Linked DNA regions of Homo sapiens: region 2 is linked to region 1. The links come from fine-mapping of genetic effects on gene expression. Tissue or cell type: gastroesophageal junction. Region 1 holds a variant in brackets; the other region holds the start of a gene. All regions are shown on one strand. Distances are between the middles of the regions.

The links. PIP is the estimated chance that this variant, and not a neighbour inherited with it, causes the effect.
Region 2: it holds the start of PGPEP1, and the variant in region 1 is fine-mapped to the expression of PGPEP1 in gastroesophageal junction (GTEx, PIP 0.99).

What each region holds. Positions count from the first base shown.
Region 1 is chr19:17,968,643-17,976,743 of GRCh38, forward strand. It overlaps KCNN1 (potassium calcium-activated channel subfamily N member 1), which reads left to right. Exons shown (of 10, transcript NM_001386974.1): 2 at 5,166-5,648; 3 at 6,450-6,545. The coding sequence starts at 5,247. It also overlaps the pseudogene RNA5SP468. Among named protein-coding and RNA genes, the nearest start is that of KCNN1, 5.6 kb to the left of the region's middle. The variant C/T (reference allele first, on the strand shown) is at 4,985.
Region 2 is chr19:18,337,262-18,345,362 of GRCh38, forward strand. It overlaps PGPEP1 (pyroglutamyl-peptidase I), which reads left to right and starts at 3,337. Exons shown (of 5, transcript NM_017712.4): 1 at 3,337-3,454; 2 at 5,598-5,650. The coding sequence starts at 3,421. RefSeq lists a silencer at 3,186-3,375 and enhancers at 3,207-3,894, 6,674-7,513, 7,514-8,101.

The DNA.
Region 1 (8,101 bases):
GCTCCCTGCTACCCTCATCCTCTCCTCAAGAGCTCTCATGGGTCCCCCCAGGCACACGAGGTTCCCCCAGAAGTGTGTGTCTCCAGGGAGGGTGTGGAAGTGGGTCTCTGCTCATCCCCTGCACCCCAGGCTTCAGGGAAGGGAGCTCTCATGACCAGACAGAGTAGTAAAAGTAAGGCAATATCAAAGACCTTCCAACCCAAATACACCCCGTAGGATGTTTGTTGTTTGTTAGAGATGGGATATTGCTAGTTGTCCAGGCTGGTCTCGAGCTCCTGGGCTGAAGTGATCTCCTGCCTTGGCCTCTTGAATAGCTGGAACTAGGTATATACCTAGCTAATAGGGTGGTATTCCTCACTTGGCAAACCCAGGGCTGTTACCCAGAAAAACATACCCTTTCATGGGCATCCAAACCTTGGCTGAGGGTTCCCAGGGGCTCCTGGGTCTCTGGGAATCCCTGAGGGTCCCAGGGACTCCAGTGTTAGGCCCAGATTGCAGTGGGGGAGGGGATGTGTACCCAGGAATGGGGAAGGCCCAGGCACTCATCAGTTCTGTGCTCCAAGCTAGTGGCTTCTCGACGGCAGGACCAGGCCAGTTCCCCTCCCAGAAAGCAGACCCTGCCACCTGCCACGCCTGGATGGCACTAATTTAGTCCCTGCCTTTCCTGGCTGGGTGACCTTGGGCAAAAGGTGCTGAGCTTCTCTGAGCTCTGTCTCCCGTCTGTAAAATGGGAACGGGAATGCCACCTTGCTCACCGGTGGTGATAGGGATTAAATGTGATCACCCTGATCTCAGGCTCAAAGCATAGTAAGAGCCCGGTCCACAGTAATGTGGTGGGTGCCGGGAAAGCCCTCCACCCCTCCACCCCTCCACCCTCTTGGAAGCCACCTGCCATTTCTCTCCTCCTCCCCACCCCCTCCCTGCCCAGGGCACCTTAGGACGCGGCTGCCAGGCGAGGAGGAACATGGCAGACACACGGCTGAATTTGGCCCATGCGTCGGGTGGCTGAGTCACATCCCCAAATTGCATCTTCATTGGTGCGTTTCGGAAGGTCGTTTGCAGAGGCCATCGGAGGCCTACACCCCCTCTGGGTTCTGTCTGCCAGGCCACCCGCTTCTCATCCCTGTGCCCCCCATCCCCAGCTGGGGAAGTTTTGCACCCTCGGGGATGGTGGAAGGGGTGCCTGGGTTTTCCTGGGCCCCCTGGAGGAGGGCAGGATCTGGGGTTCCTGTGTGCACCCTAGTGCAAGCTCCCAGCCCCACCTGGTAGCCAGCGGATGTTCAGGCAGTGGGCAGGGGTTTGAGCCTCGGAGCAGAAGGCCCACCTAAGTATTTGTGAGGTTACGGAAAGATCAGGGCCAAGGTCAGCCTCATAAACTGTCAAATGCTGGGCCCACAAGGCCAGGCCTTATAGACTGTGAAGTGCTGGGCCGGCAGGAGGTCAGGCCTGATAAACTGGGAAGTACTAGGCCACATGAGGCTAGGTCTCATAAACTGGGAAGTGCTGGGCCTGCGGGAGGTCAGGCCTTACAAGCTGTGAGGTGCCTGGTCACAGGAAGCCACAGCCTGATTGATGTGATGGGTGAGGGTGGGAAGGGGTGGGACAAGTTCTGAGACTCATGAGGTCACCTGACCATAGAAGGAATGATTTTTTTTTTTTTTTTTTTTTTTTTTTTTTTTTTTTTTTTTTTTTGGAGACAGGGTCTCACTCTGTTATCCAGGCTGGAATGCAGTGGCATGATCTCAGCTCACTGCAACCTCCACTTCCCGGGTTCAAGTGATTCTTGTGCCTCAGCCTCCCAAGTAGCTGGGATGACAGGTGCCCACTACCACGCCCGGCTAATTTTGTATTTTTAGTAGAGACAGGGTTTCACTATGTTGGCCAGGCTGGTCTTGAACTCTTGACTTCAGGTGATCCACCCACCTTGGCCTCCCAGAGTGCTGGGATTACAGGTGTGAGCCACCACGCCCAGCCAGTTTTGCCATGTTGGCCAAGCTGGTCTTGAACTCCTGACCTCAAGTGATCTACCCGCCTCAGCCTCCCAAAGTGCTGGAATTACAGGCATGAGCTACCGCGCCCGGCCACAAAGAAATAATTCTTGCACTCCTGTGTGCTGACACCAGTATCTGGAGACACATCGTGAGGGACAGACACAGTGTGGGGGGTGCCGGACAAAGGCATAGGTGGTCCTGCAATGTGTGCGGCAGCCAAAGTCACCCATGTCCAACTCAGCAGTGTAGCTCATTTTTTTTTTTTTTTGAGACAGAGTCTCACTCTGTTGCCCAGGCTGGAGTGCAGTGGCGTGATCTCAGCTCACTGCAGCCTCCACCTCCCGAGTTCAAGCTATTCTCCTGCCTCAGCCTCCCAAGTAGCTGGGATTACAGGTGCCCACCACCACACCTGGCTAATTTTTGTAGTTTTAGTAGAGACAGGATTTCGCCATGTTGGCCAGGCTGGCCTCAAACTCCTGACCTCAAGTGATCTGCCCACCTCAGCCTCCCAAAGTGCTGGGATTACAGGCGTGAGCCACTGCACCCAGCCAATGTGGCTCATCTTGCTGTGTCCTGGAATGACGATCTGCTAGTCTGTCACCCCCAGTGGGGGTGGGAAGTGTCCTGCCTGTGCACACAGCTGCCCCCAACCCTTCTCCCAGGCCTGGCACATGGGGGACCCCTAGTGCATGCTGTTGTGACCATTTCAAAGGGGATAACACTTGGCCTCCACCCACCCCTGCCCAGCTTGTTGGGAAAATCTCACAAAGGAGCCGGGTCCGGAATCTTCCCTGCAAGGAGAAGGTGTGTCTTCAGGCAGGTTTGTATTATTATTATTTTTTTTTTGAGACGGAGTTTTGCTCTTGTTGCCCAGGCTGGAGTGCAATGGCATGATCTCAGCTCACTGCAACCTCCGCCTCCCGGGTTCAAGCGATTCTCCTGTCTCAACCTCCTGAGTAGGTGGGATTACAGGCATGGGCCACCACGCCCAGCTAATTTTTTGTCTTTTTAGTAGAGACGGGGTTTCACCATGTTGGTCAGGCTGGTCTCGAACTCCTGACCTCAGATGATCTGCCCACCTTGGCCTCCCAAAGTGCTGGGATTCCAGGCGTGAGCCACCGTGCCCGGCCCAGGCAGATTCTTTCACAACATCATGCCACAGTTTCCCCATCTGTAAAACTGGCCAAATCCCAGGACCCACTTCTTGGCAGTATTAGGATTCAGGAGAACATTTACATAAAGAATGGAGCCTGGGACCGGGCACAGTGGCTCATGCCTGTAATCCCAACACTTTGGGAGGACGAGGAGGAAGGATCACTGGAGCCCAGGAGTTCCAGACCAGCCTGGGCAATGTAGCAAGGCCTGATCTCTACTAGAAATAAAAATAAATCATCTATGGCCATACCACCCTGAACACTCCCGATCTCATCTGATCTCGGAAAAATAAATCATTAGCTGGGGGTGGTGGCGCATACCTGTAGTCCTTGCTGCTTGGGAGGCTGAGGTGGGAGGATCGCTTGAGCCCAGGAGTCCGAGGCTGCAGTGAGCTAGGATTGCCCCACTGCACTCCAGCCTGGGCTACAGAGCAGGCAAGGAGTGCATTTGAGGGTCTGAGATACTGGGCTGGGCAGGGCAGGGGAGAATCTGACAAGTTGGATCCAGAGTCTCAGACAGCCTCTCAATGCCTTGGTGAGCATGATGACTATGTCACCATCATTGAGGTCCCTGCTCTCACACATGATGCCACAGGACATTGCTCTGTAATCACACAGGGTGCTTTTCAAATAGCCTGGCAGGGAAACAGGCTAGCCTGAGATCATAGAGCCCAGCCAAGCATGTCTTATGTCTTACAAAGCCCTGCAGAATCGATTCTAGATCTTGGAGTTAAAGCCTGCATTGCCACACTGTTTGGAGATCATGGATCCCCTCCTGGAAACCATTTGGATTCTGTTTGGAATCTGTTTGGAGATTATGGATCCCCTCCTGCCCAGGCAGGAGGGAGCCTCAGGATCTCTGTAGCCACAGCCAGGGTCCCTAATGTCCCATAGGCCACAGTGCAGGAGCCTACAAATGCAGGAGGCACGGTGAGGTGAGGTTAACTCATCCAAGAGTCTGAAGGTTGGAAGAGGATGAGCTCAGATGAAAACCACCTTCTAAGCATACCATTAGCCACCCTCTCCTCCCAGGCAAGCCCGTTGGTAGATTTCATCTTCCAGCGTTCAGCAAGTGTTTCCTGAGTGTCATCTGTTTGCTAGGCATTGTTCTAGGTGCTTGGATACACATAAAGTCAGCAGGCAGGGCTCTGGTAGGGGGGCATTCCAGGCAGAGGGCACAGCCTGTGCAAGGTATCAGAGAAGGATGAACTTGTTGGAATCTGGTGATTGGGAGACCATTGTGGCTGGAGGAATTGGGTCTGGGGAGAGTAAGAAGGACGAGATAGGTGGGAACCAGATACAGAGGGCCCCTTGGCCATAGTGAAGAGTTTGGTGTTTTATTTGTTTTTGTTTTTGTTTTTTTTAGAGATCGGCTCTAGTTATGTTGTCCAGGCTGGATTTAAACCCCCAGACTCAAGTGATCCTCCAGTCTCAGCCTCTGAGTAGCTGTGATTACAAGTGTGCACCACTGGGCCCAGCTCTGGAGTTTCTTTGTTCTTTTTCTTTTTTTTGAGACGTAGTCTCACTCTGCCACCCAGGCTGGAGTGCAATGGCATGATCTTGGCTCACTACAGCCTCTGCTTCCTGGGTTCAAGCGATTCTTCTGCCTCAGCCTCCCACGCAGCTGGGACTACAGGCATGCACCACTACGCCTGGCTAATTTTTGTATTTTTAGTAGAGACTGGTTTTCGCCATGTTGGCCAGGCCAGTTTCGAACTCCTGAACTCAAGCGGTCCTTCTGCCTTGGCCTCCTAAGTAGCTGCAATTACCAGAGCTGCACCACCATGCCCGGCTCTCTGGGGTTGATTTTTTCAGTGAGATGGCACTGGGGAGCCATGG[C/T]AGGGCTTTGAGCAGGGGAGGGATTCAGGCTGACTCAGATGTTTCTGGGATGGTAAACCCACGTGTCAGCACTCTGGGCCACTCCCAAACTTAGAACGTTCTGGGTTGGCCGGGATGGTCCTTGCCTTTCTGGTCAGTAAGCTGGACCCTGCTGTGACCATGTCCCTCTGTGCCCTTGCAGGTCAGTGCAGGAGCCCAGCCGCTGAGCCATGCCGGGCCCCGGGCGGCCTGCAGCGAGCCCAACCCCTGCACCCAGGTAGTCATGAACAGCCACAGCTACAATGGCAGCGTGGGGCGGCCGCTGGGCAGCGGGCCGGGCGCCCTGGGACGAGACCCTCCGGACCCTGAGGCCGGCCACCCCCCACAACCCCCGCACAGCCCGGGCCTCCAGGTGGTAGTGGCCAAGAGTGAGCCAGCCCGGCCCTCACCCGGCAGCCCCCGGGGGCAGCCCCAGGACCAGGACGATGACGAGGATGATGAGGAAGATGAGGCCGGCAGGCAGAGAGCCTCGGGGAAACCCTCAAATGTGGGCCACCGCCTGGGCCACCGGCGGGCGCTCTTCGAGAAGCGGAAGCGCCTCAGCGACTATGCCCTCATTTTCGGCATGTTTGGCATCGTCGTCATGGTGACGGAGACCGAGCTGTCCTGGGGGGTGTACACCAAGGTAGGCGTGGTCCTCCCCCAGGCACTCCAGGGAGGTTCCACCAAGCCCGCCTAGCTTTCTTGACATGGGGTTGGGGGTGGCAGGGCCCCCCGGGAGATAGGGAGTGTTAGGGGGCTCCCGGAGGTGAGGGCTCCCTGGCCTTCTGCATACCCACCTCCAGGAAGGTAGCAGGGAGGCTACACATGGAGAAGGAAGGTTCCAGCCCATTCCCTGGCCAGGTGTCAAGGGGCTGCACCCTGGCTTAAGGCGGAGGGGGGCTTCCCCCCAGGACAGGGGTTCCCCAGAGTGGGCCTGCTCTGGGGAGCAACAGAAGATCTTCCTCCCCTTCCGAGAGTGAGTGCGTCCAGGTTACAAGCCTGGCTGTGGGTTCCCTCATGCCACCTAGAATGTGTGAGGATGGAGAGAGATCAGGGCTGTGTCAGCCTGTAAACTCTGAAGTGCCGAGGCTGGATGAGGTCCGGCCTTGTGAACTGTGAAGTGCTGTGCCCAAGTGAGGCCAGGCCTCATAAACTGTGAAGCACTGGACACATCTTGCTGTCAGCCCAGTCCCCAGGAATAAGGACAGGAGAGCACCGCTTCCTGAATACAGCACATGCTGCACGCCCAGCCCTGATAAGCTGTTTCACACACAGCAGCCCCAGGACTGGGGAACTAGCAGAAATTCAGGGTACAGTGGGAGAAGCCACTGGGAAGAGCCCCATTTAGCTGACTCCCATGCCCGGGAGCCAGGGTAAGGGGATGGGAGGGCCGCCGGCCCACCGCCTCCAGCGTCCATCTGGCTGTGTCCTCTCTCTTTACCAGGAGTCTCTGTACTCATTCGCACTCAAATGCCTCATCAGCCTCTCCACGGCCATCCTGCTGGGTCTCGTTGTCCTCTACCATGCCCGGGAGATCCAGGTCAGTGCTGAATACTGCAGGAAGCAGCTCCTCTCCTCAAACCCCAGATCCCCCCACACCAGCCCACCTTAGACCCCATCCCCTCAAAACATAAAAGGATGTATAATTGGCTTCTGATAGAAAAAAGATCTCCATAAAGACACACAGTTTCCATCATTCTAGATTTCCTTGAAACACACATCTGTGTTTTAATTTTCATTGATTATTTACAAAAAAGAACAGGTAGTGAGAAAGTGAGGGGCTGAGCTGGGACTCTGGGACACACGGGTTGTTTCCAGGCTGGAGTGCAGTGGTGCGATATTGGCTCGCTGCAACCTCTGCCTCCTGGGTTCAAGCGATTCTTCTGCCTCAGTCTCCCGAGTAGCTGGGATTACAGGCGCATGGCACCACACCTTGCTAATTTTTGTATTTCTAGTAGAGACGGGATTTCACCATGTTGGCCAGGCTGGTCTCGAACTCCTGACCTCCAGTGATCCACCCGTCTCAGCCTCCCAAAGTGCTAGGATTACAGGTGTCAGCCACTGCTCCTGGCCTATTTGTTTAGTTTTTGAGACAGGGTCTCACTCTGTTGCCCAGGCTGGAGTGCAGTGATGCAGTCATGGCTTTGACCTCTTGTGTTCAAGAGATTTTCCTGCCACAGCCTCCCGAGTAGCTGGGACTACAGCTGCGCACCACCACACCTGGCTAATTTTTGTATTGTCTTGTCAGTGTCTCGCCATATTGCCCAGGCTGGCCTCAAACTCGTGGGCTCAAGTGATCGGCCCACCTCACCCTCCCAAAGTGTTGGGACTTTACAGGCATGAGCCACCATGCCCGGCTGCACACGCATGTTGATAACAGCACTGTTCAAAGTAGCCAAAAATCACACCTGTGATCCCAGCACTTTGGGAGGCCAAGGCGGGTGGATCACTTGGGGTCAGGAGTTCAAGACCAGCTTGGTCAACGTGGTGAAACTCCATCTCTACAAAAATTAGCCAGGCATGATATCGGGTGCACGTAATCCCAGCTATTTGGGAGGCTGAGGCGGGAGAATCACTTGAACCTGGGAGGCAGAGGTTGCAGTGGAGCTGAGATCGAACCATTGCACTCCAGCCTGGGCAACAGAGCAAGACTCCGTCTCAAAAAAACAAAAATACAAAGTAGCCAAAAAGCAGAAACAACATCCAAATGTCCATCCAGGCATGAATGGATAAATAAAATGTAGTGCACCTGTACAATGGACAATTATTCAACCTTTTTTTTTTTTTGAGACGGAGTTTCACTGTTGTTGTCCAGGCTGGAGTGCAATGGCACGATCTCCAGCTCACCGCAACCTACGCCTCCTGGGTTCAAGCAATTCTCCTGCTTCAGCCTCCCGAGCAGCTGGGATTACAGGCATGTGCCACCACACCCAGCTAATTTTGTATTTTTAGTAGAGACGGGGTTTCTCCATGTTGGTCAGGGTGGTCTCGAACTCCCAACCTCAGGTGATCTGCCCGCCTCGGCCTCCCAAGGTGCTGGGATTACAGGTGTGAGCCACCGCGCCCAGCATAACCTTTTTTTTTTTGAGATGGAGT
Region 2 (8,101 bases), 370 kb after region 1:
GACAAAGCAAGATCATATCTCAAAAAACAAAAATATGGCCCAAACATGATTAGGGCTACGAGTGAACATTAGCCTTTACGCCAGTCACTGGGGCAGTGGGGCATGACTCAGTTTCTCCCCATCACTGCTGACTCTACATGTTTTCGTTCCTCCCATTGCAATTGAGGAAACTAAAATCCACTGTCACTTCCCTCTCGCCTTCCCTCTTCTAGCAACGCACATACTCCACACCAGGCACGTATGACATATTCAGGTTATAAAACCTGCCTTTGGGTGAGTGGTTTTTTTGTTTTGTTTTGTTTTTTTCTGAGACGGAGTCTCGCTCTGTCGCTTAGGCTGGAGTGCAGTGGCACGATCTCAGCTCACTGCAACTTCCGCCTCCTGGGTTCAAGTGATTCTCCTGGCTCAGCCTCCCCAGTAGCTGGGACTACAGGCACGCGCCACCACTCACTGCTAGTTTTTTGCATTTTTAGTAGAGACAGGGTTTCACCATGTTGGCCAGGCTGGTCTCGAATTCCTGACCTCAAGTGATCCGCCTGCCTCGGCCTCCCAAAGTGCTGGGATTACAGGCGTGAGCCACTGCGCCTGGCCAGGTTAGTGTTTTGATCTGCTCTTTTCTCCCTCTTGGCTTGGACCTCATTCCCTGGCCAGCTCAGACAGCTCTCTGATGTTCTGCATTCTACCTGAAGCTGCTAAAGACCAAAATAGCCACTGAGCGTGTGACCTGGGGTGTGGGCTTCCAAACAGGGCTCAGGGGCAGTCTAGAGAACTCTGCCCTTGGTGTTGGAGGAATTCGGGGGTGGAGCCAGTAAACACCATAGTACCAGCTGGGCACGGTGGCTCATGTCTGTAATCTCAGCACTTTGGGAGGCCAAGGCAGGCAGATCACCTGATGTCAGGAGTTCAAGACCAGCCTGGCCAACATGGTGAAACCCCATCCCTACTAAAAATGCAAAAATTAGCCGGGCACGGTGGCAGGTGCTGGTAGTCCCAGCTATTCAGGAGGCTGAGGCAGGAGAATCGCTTGAACCCAGGGGCCGGAGGTTGTAGTGAGCCTAGATCGTGCTATTGCACCCCAGCCTGGGCGACAGAGTGAGACTCTGTCTCAAACAAACAAACAAAAAACCATAGTGTCTTGGCGAATGATGGCAAAGTCAAAGTGGAACGGGCTATCAGTGAACCACACAGTCAGGAGTTCTGGCTCATGCCTGTTATCCCAGCACTTTAGGAGGCTGAGGCAGGAGGATTGCTTGAGCCCAGGATTTCAAGACCAACCCAAACAGGCAACATAGCAAGACCTCGTCCCTACAAAAAATATAAAAATTAGCCGGGCATGGCAGCACGCGCCTGTAGTCCCAGCTACTCGGGAGGCTGAGGTGGAAGAATTGCTTTAGCCTTGGAGATTAAGGCTGCAGTGAGCTGTGATCGCTCCATTGCTCTCCAGCCTGGGCAAAAGAACAAGATCCTGTCTAAAAAAAAAAAAAAAAAAAAAATTCGTGACCCAAGTCCAAGGTCCAGTCCTGTTTCTGAAGATGTGGCCAGAAACTCAGCTTTCATTTTCTACCTGTTTTTAGAGGAATTCTGGTCTCTGATGAATGTTGGCAGAATGTGCCTGGGGATGTGCTGGGTGTTGAGACGCAGCTCTAACAGAACAACGCTTCCTCCTCTAGAAGTTCTCATCTCTATGTCGGAGGAAACGGGAAGCCAACCAGAGAGGCTGTGACCATACTAAATGATTTCTGCTTAATAATACCTGGGGAGGGGGCCGGAGGCAGTGGTTCACGCCTGTAATCCCAGCACTTTGGGAGCTGAAAAGGGTGGATCACCTGAAGTCAGGAGTTCGAGACCAGCCTGGCCAACATGGTGAACCTCCCTCTCTACTAAAAATACAAAATTAGCTGGGTATGGCGGCACTCGCCTGTAATCCCAGCTACTTGGGAGGCTGAGGTGGGAGAATTGCTTGAACCCGGGAGGCAGAGGTTGCAGTGAGCCAAGATCACACCACTGCACTCCAGCCTGGGTGACAAGAGTGAAACTACGTCTCAAATAAATAAATACATATATAATTTCTGCTTAATAATACCTGGGGGACTAAATAATCTGTACAACAAACCCCATGACACGAGTTTATCTATATAACAAACCTGCACATGTACCCCAAAACTTAAAAGCTAAAAAAAATTAAAAATGATTTCTGGCCAGGTGTGCTGGTTTACACCTGTAATCCCAGCACTTTTGGGAGGCCAAGGTGTGCGGATTGCTTGAGCTCGGGAGTTCGAGACCAGCCTGTGCAACACTATGAAACCCCCATCTCTACAAAAATACAAAAATTAGCTGGGTGTGGTGCCACACACCTGTAGTCCCAGCTACTCAGGAGGCTGAGATGTGAGGATCAGTTGAGCCCTGGAGGTCAAAGTTACAGAGCTATGATTTTGCCACTGCACTCCAGCCTGGGTAACAGAGTGAGACCCTGTCTCCAAAAAAAAGAGAGAGAAAGGAAATTATTTCTGAGCTTTATTGCTATGAAGAGGATGGAACCAGGGAATGAGATGGAACCACTGGGGGGTAGCAGTGAGGTCATTTCAGCCAAGGAGGGCCAGAAGGAACCCTCAGAGGAGGTAATAGGATAGCAGGGAGGTGATAGCCAGAGAAGGCCACAAGGAGAAAGTGACAGTTCACCCCTCGGAGGAGGTGACAGCCAGGACAGGAGGAGGGCCCCTGGGAGGAGGCGACATTGGAACACTGGAGCTGAGGCCTGAAGGAGGCCAGCTTCGCAGGTACCTGCGGGGTGTGTTCCGGCAGAGGGAACAGCAGGTACAATCGCCCTCCCCCATTAGCCTCCTAGGACCATGGGGGCCTGCAGAGAAACTTCTGGCACCACACAAATATGGTTGTCGTGTTTTTCCTTTTTTACTCTGTCCTCCCCCACCCCCGCCAACTTCCTGGCCTGAATGCTGCTCCTGTGACCCCTTGAGGCGAGTGACCTCGGGGAAGTGGCATTCTGTGCCTCAGTTTCCTTATCTGGAAAACGGGCCTTGCTCGCGGGGACTTCCCTCCCTAATTCTGCGCAGTATGCATGCATAGGGCAGGCCCTCAATGAACCCTTGCAGAATAAAGGACCGGCTCATCCCCAGCACCTGGCTCAGTGCGTGCAAGCGGCTACACACTACGGCATAAGATGTTCCCATTTTGCAGACGGGGAAACGGAGGCTGGGGAATACCGGGCCTAGCCGACGGGGGCGGGGCGCAGGGCGCGCACGCTGCGTCTCGGGCCCGGGGGCGCGCACGCCGAGCGGCTGACCGGGGGCGAGGCCGGGGGCTTGACAGGGGCGTGGCCTCGCGCGGCCGAGAGGCTGCAGCGGCAGCAGCTGTCGCGCCAGTCGCAACAGAAGCAGGTCCGAGGCACAGCCCGATCCCGCCATGGAGCAGCCGAGGAAGGCGGTGGTAGTGACGGGTACGCTGGCTGATGGGGGCTGTAGCGGCAGCGGCCGGGGGCAGAGGCGGGGGCGGCTCCGGGACTGCGGGGCCGAGAGGGGCAGGTGCTGGAAGTCCTCTCAGATTTGGAAGGTGTCATCACCCGCGGGAGCCCCGCGCAGCCCAGGCTTCCTGGAAAGTGGAGGAGGAGGAGCCTTGGGGGTCCCAGGGTCGGGAGTCAGGGCAGTCGGGCGCGGGGCTTGGGGGGCCGGGCAAAAGCCCGGCGCTGCGCAGGCCCCCCTGGCGTCCTTTCCTCCCAAGGTGGGGATGGTGACCCTCCTGGCACCTGCCTCCTCTGTCTGGCCTGCGGGCTGGACTGGACCCTTCCTCCCTGCCCCTTCCGAGGTCCAGCCTGTCCCCACACCGCTCCCCCAACCCCTGGCCCCAGGGGACAAAGGCCGATTTGCGGGCAGGAAGTGTCCCAGTGACAAATGAACCTCCCAGTCACTGCTCGCCGCGCCCTGCGCTCCTGGGGGGCTACTCTCCCAAGGCAGGGGCAGGTGGGGGTCCGGGGACCTCGGGCTCTCCCAGCTGTCCCAGGGACTGTCTTCAGCGGAAACCTTTTTGTGTTTTGTGCCAGGGCTGTTTGTTGGTGAGTCAGGGCCCCTGCTGTCACCGACTCCCCCCCACCCCCAAACCAACTGTTTCTCCTCCCTGAGACTCCGCCTCGGGGCCACGTGGGGCGCCAACTTCCGCTGGGGCCTCAGAGTCAAGGAGTGGGGGGGTCATTTTGACCTGCTGTCTGGAGGGGTCAGAGTGGGAAATCCAGCAAAGGTGCACACAGGTGTTTTGTGGCTGTTGAAGGGAGATTGAGGCTGATCCAGGAGATTCAGGGAAGAAGGAAGAAACAAGGCACCTGCTTAACAGGTGTGTATAATTGGGAGGAGGGTCACTGCCCCCATCCCTTCCAGCCTTCCTTTATCTGGTTATTTATTCCAGCACTTTTTGCATGAGCTGATTACATCTTTACTGTCTCCATTTTGCAGAAAGGGAAACTGAGGCTCACAGAGGTCATCCAGTTTGTAAGGGGCTGAGCTGAGACTCAAACTTTGGCTGTACAGAAGGATAGAGTTAGGAGGTCCCCTCCTGAGCCACAGCCCCTACCTGCTATCCCAGGCTACAGCATCTCTGCATAGCATTCATATCCTGTGGGATCACTGGCCCAGATGGACCGTATTTTTTTTTTTTTGAGACGGAGTTTTGCTCTTGTTGCCCAAGCTGGAGCACAACGGCGCGATCTCGGCTCACTGCAACCTTCGCCTCCTGGGTTCAAGCGATTCTCCTGCCTCAGCCTCCTGAGTAGCTGGAATTACGGGCACGCATCACCCCATCTGGTTAATTTTTTGTATTTTTAGTAGAAACGGGGTTTCACCATGTTGGCCAGGCTGGTCTCAAACTTCTGACCTCAGGTGATCCGCCCGCCTTGGCCTCCCAAAGTGCTGGAATTACAGGCATGAGCCACCGCACCCAGCCCCAGATCTGGATTTGAATCCCAGCTTTTTCACCTTCTTGCTGTGTGACCTTGGGCAGCTAGCTTCACCTCTCTGTGCCTCAGTCCCTGCTCCTGGAAACTGGGCCTAGGAAACACCCTTGCCTGAAAGGGGATGTGGCCAGGCTTAATGCCAGGAAGATCACTTAGCACAGCCTTGGGCGACTGTCGTGTTTTGGAAAGGGGGCCTGGAGTTTGAGCTAGCAGGGAGGAGGGTGACAAGGTGAAATCTAGACAGCCTGGAGGGCTCATTCCTCATTTGGTGCCGATTCAGGGCATTTTGGGACAGTGACACAATAATTGTAGGTTGAGTCAAGGGGACCAGAGGAAGTGAAGACAGGATCAGGACCTTTTCGGAGGCAGAAGATACCTCTGGCCCCTGGCTGAGCATGAGGGGCAGGTGGAGGTGAAGACAGGAAGGGACTCATTGACTTCAGAGCGGACAGGTGCAGGACGGCGGCTCTGACGGGCCTCCAGGTGCTCCCAGAACTCAGGACCAGGCCCCCAATGTTGTCCTTGGCAGCTGCGCCCTGAAGCTCCTTTCTTGCTTCTCCAGGTGGGAGTAGCGGCCAGGCCAGGGGCAGACTGGGAAGGGCCACTCTTGGGTAATATATTGCTTTTCCTGTTTTTTCAGGATTTGGCCCTTTTGGGGAACACACCGTGAACGCCAGTTGGATTGCAGTTCAGGTAACTTAGATCCGGAGGGTGGGAGTCAGGCTTGGAGCTGGGCACACCCCAGAAAGTTATGGCATCCAAGAAGGTCCCCTTTTAACAAAAACTTTTTTTTTTTTTTGAGACGAAATCTTACTCTGTCACCCAGGCTGGAATGCAATGGCACAATCTCAGCCCACTGCAACCTTCGCCTCCTGGGTTTAAGCGATTCTCCCACCTCAGCCTCCAGAGTGGCAGAGATTATAGGTGGCTGCCACCACGCCCGGCTAATTTTTGTATTTTTAGTAGAGTCGGGGTTTCACCATGTTGGCCAGGCTGGTCTCGAACTCCTGACCTCAAGTAATCCTCCTGCCTCAGCCTCTTAAAATGCTGGAATTACAGGCGTGAGCCACTACGCCCAGCCAGCTCTTAAAAAACGATGTCGGATCCACATCTCTTCCTGGATGGTAACCACCGGAGCACACATCTGTTGAGTGTTTGTACCCCAGCGCTCTGAATCCTCCCAACAACCCATGCATAGTACGTGTAGTTATTCTTGTGCCCACTTAACAGAATAGGAAACTGAGGCCCAGAGGAGGGATGAAGGGAGTTCTCCGAGGTCACACAGCCAAGAAATGGGAGTGGCATTGCCTCAGAAGTGCCCCAGGCCCTGGCCAGCGGCTACAGATCTGGGTCTGGAGGGCCAGGTGTGGATATAAACGTAGCTGGTTTCCAGGACACAGCTGTTTATGTGGTGCTGGCGTCTACTTTACCTAGGAATTATCCAACTCTAGGATCTCCCTCTTTTTTTTTTTTTTTTTTTTTTGAGACGAAATCTCACTCTGTTGCCCAGGCTGGAGTGCAGTGGCGCGATCTTGGCTCACTGCAACCTTGCCTTCTGGGTTCAAGCGATTCTCCTGCCTCAGCCTCCAGAGTAGCTGGGATTACAGGCACCTGCTACCACGCCTGGCTACTTTTTTCTATTTTTAGTAGAGATGGGGTTTCACCATGATGGCCAGACTGGTCTCAAACTCCTGACTTCAGGTGATCCACCCACCTCGGCCTCCCAAAGTGCTGGGATTACAGGTGTGAGCCACTACCCCCGGCCAGGATCTCCCTCCTTTTTAAAAATCTTTTCCATTGACTCAGACAAATCGTGACTCAGGTTGGTTTCTGAACAGCCAAAGTGAGAATTCTCTGGTATGTTTTAGGCAGGTAATTCATGGTTCAGGAAGGACCAGGCAGGAATATGTGGGGTGGGGTGGCAGGGGAACATATCTTGACCTTGTAGGAAGGGGTACAGTGAGCCTCGCTGTCATCTCCTCGCAGCTGGGGGAGGAAAAGATGGCATATTAGGGGCCGAGGGGGGCTGTCATTCCTGGTGCCCTGAAGAAGATGCCAGTCTGCAAAACCTTTCTAGTTTCTTTTCCAGATGGAGTATTTTGTAGGGACAGGCTGGGGAGCAATGCACAGAGAGAAAGACGGAAGTGTTTTCTCGTTATATAAATCAGATCGGCAGAGACCAGAGCCAAACCCCTGTTTATCCTAGCCTATGAGCTGCCTGATTTAAAGTAACCTCTGTTCCCATTCCAGAATCCTAGATTTGGAGAAAAATCTAAGTTGAAACCTCAGCGTGGCAGTCCCCAGCTGTACCCCCCATTTTTTAATCACCCCCTCATCCCCAACTTCAGACCTCAAAGTTTTGGCTGTTTCCCTTTTTTTTTTTTCTTTCCTGCCCACTTCGTGAACGGGATGGAGGGACGGGGTCCCGGGACCCTGCAGATGGGAGCGTGCCCGAGGCCCTGCCTGCTCACCCGCTCCCCGGAGAGCCAGACAAAAAGAAACAGCATGTTTCTGAAGACTTGTGTGTCAGGCTTTGTGCACATTTCAGACAGGAGCCTTCACGGGGCTGAGTGGACACAAAGCCGGGTGTCTGAATTCCTGGGCCCCAGACACTGATCTACATCTAAATAGAAGAAAAATCAATTAAACAATCTTTGGAAATCCCTCCGAGCTTCGGGGCTTCTCGGATGGTGAAGGATGGCAGCTTTTTATCTTGTGGCCAGAGAGGAAATAGCCCTTCTCCTTGGTTCTCCTCTCTCCAGACCTGCAGTTTCCACTTTTTGCTTTCTTTTTTTTCTGGAGACACAGTTTCGTTCTTGTTGCCCAGACTGGAGTGCAATGTCACGGTATCAGCTCACTTCAACTTCCGCCTCCTGGGTTCAAGCGATTCTCCTGCCTCAGCCTCCCTTAGTAGCTGGGATTACAGCTGCGCACCACCAGGCCCGGCTAATTTTTGTATTTTTAGTACAGACGAGGTTTTGCCATGTTGACCAGGCTGGTCTTGAACTCCTGACCTCAGGGGATCCGCCCGCCTCGGCCTCCCAAAGTGCTGGGATTACAGGCGTGAGTCACTGCGCCCAGCCCCACTTTTCACTTTCTTCCCAAAGTTTAGGACACAAGATTCCCCACCATTCGCCTGCCAAA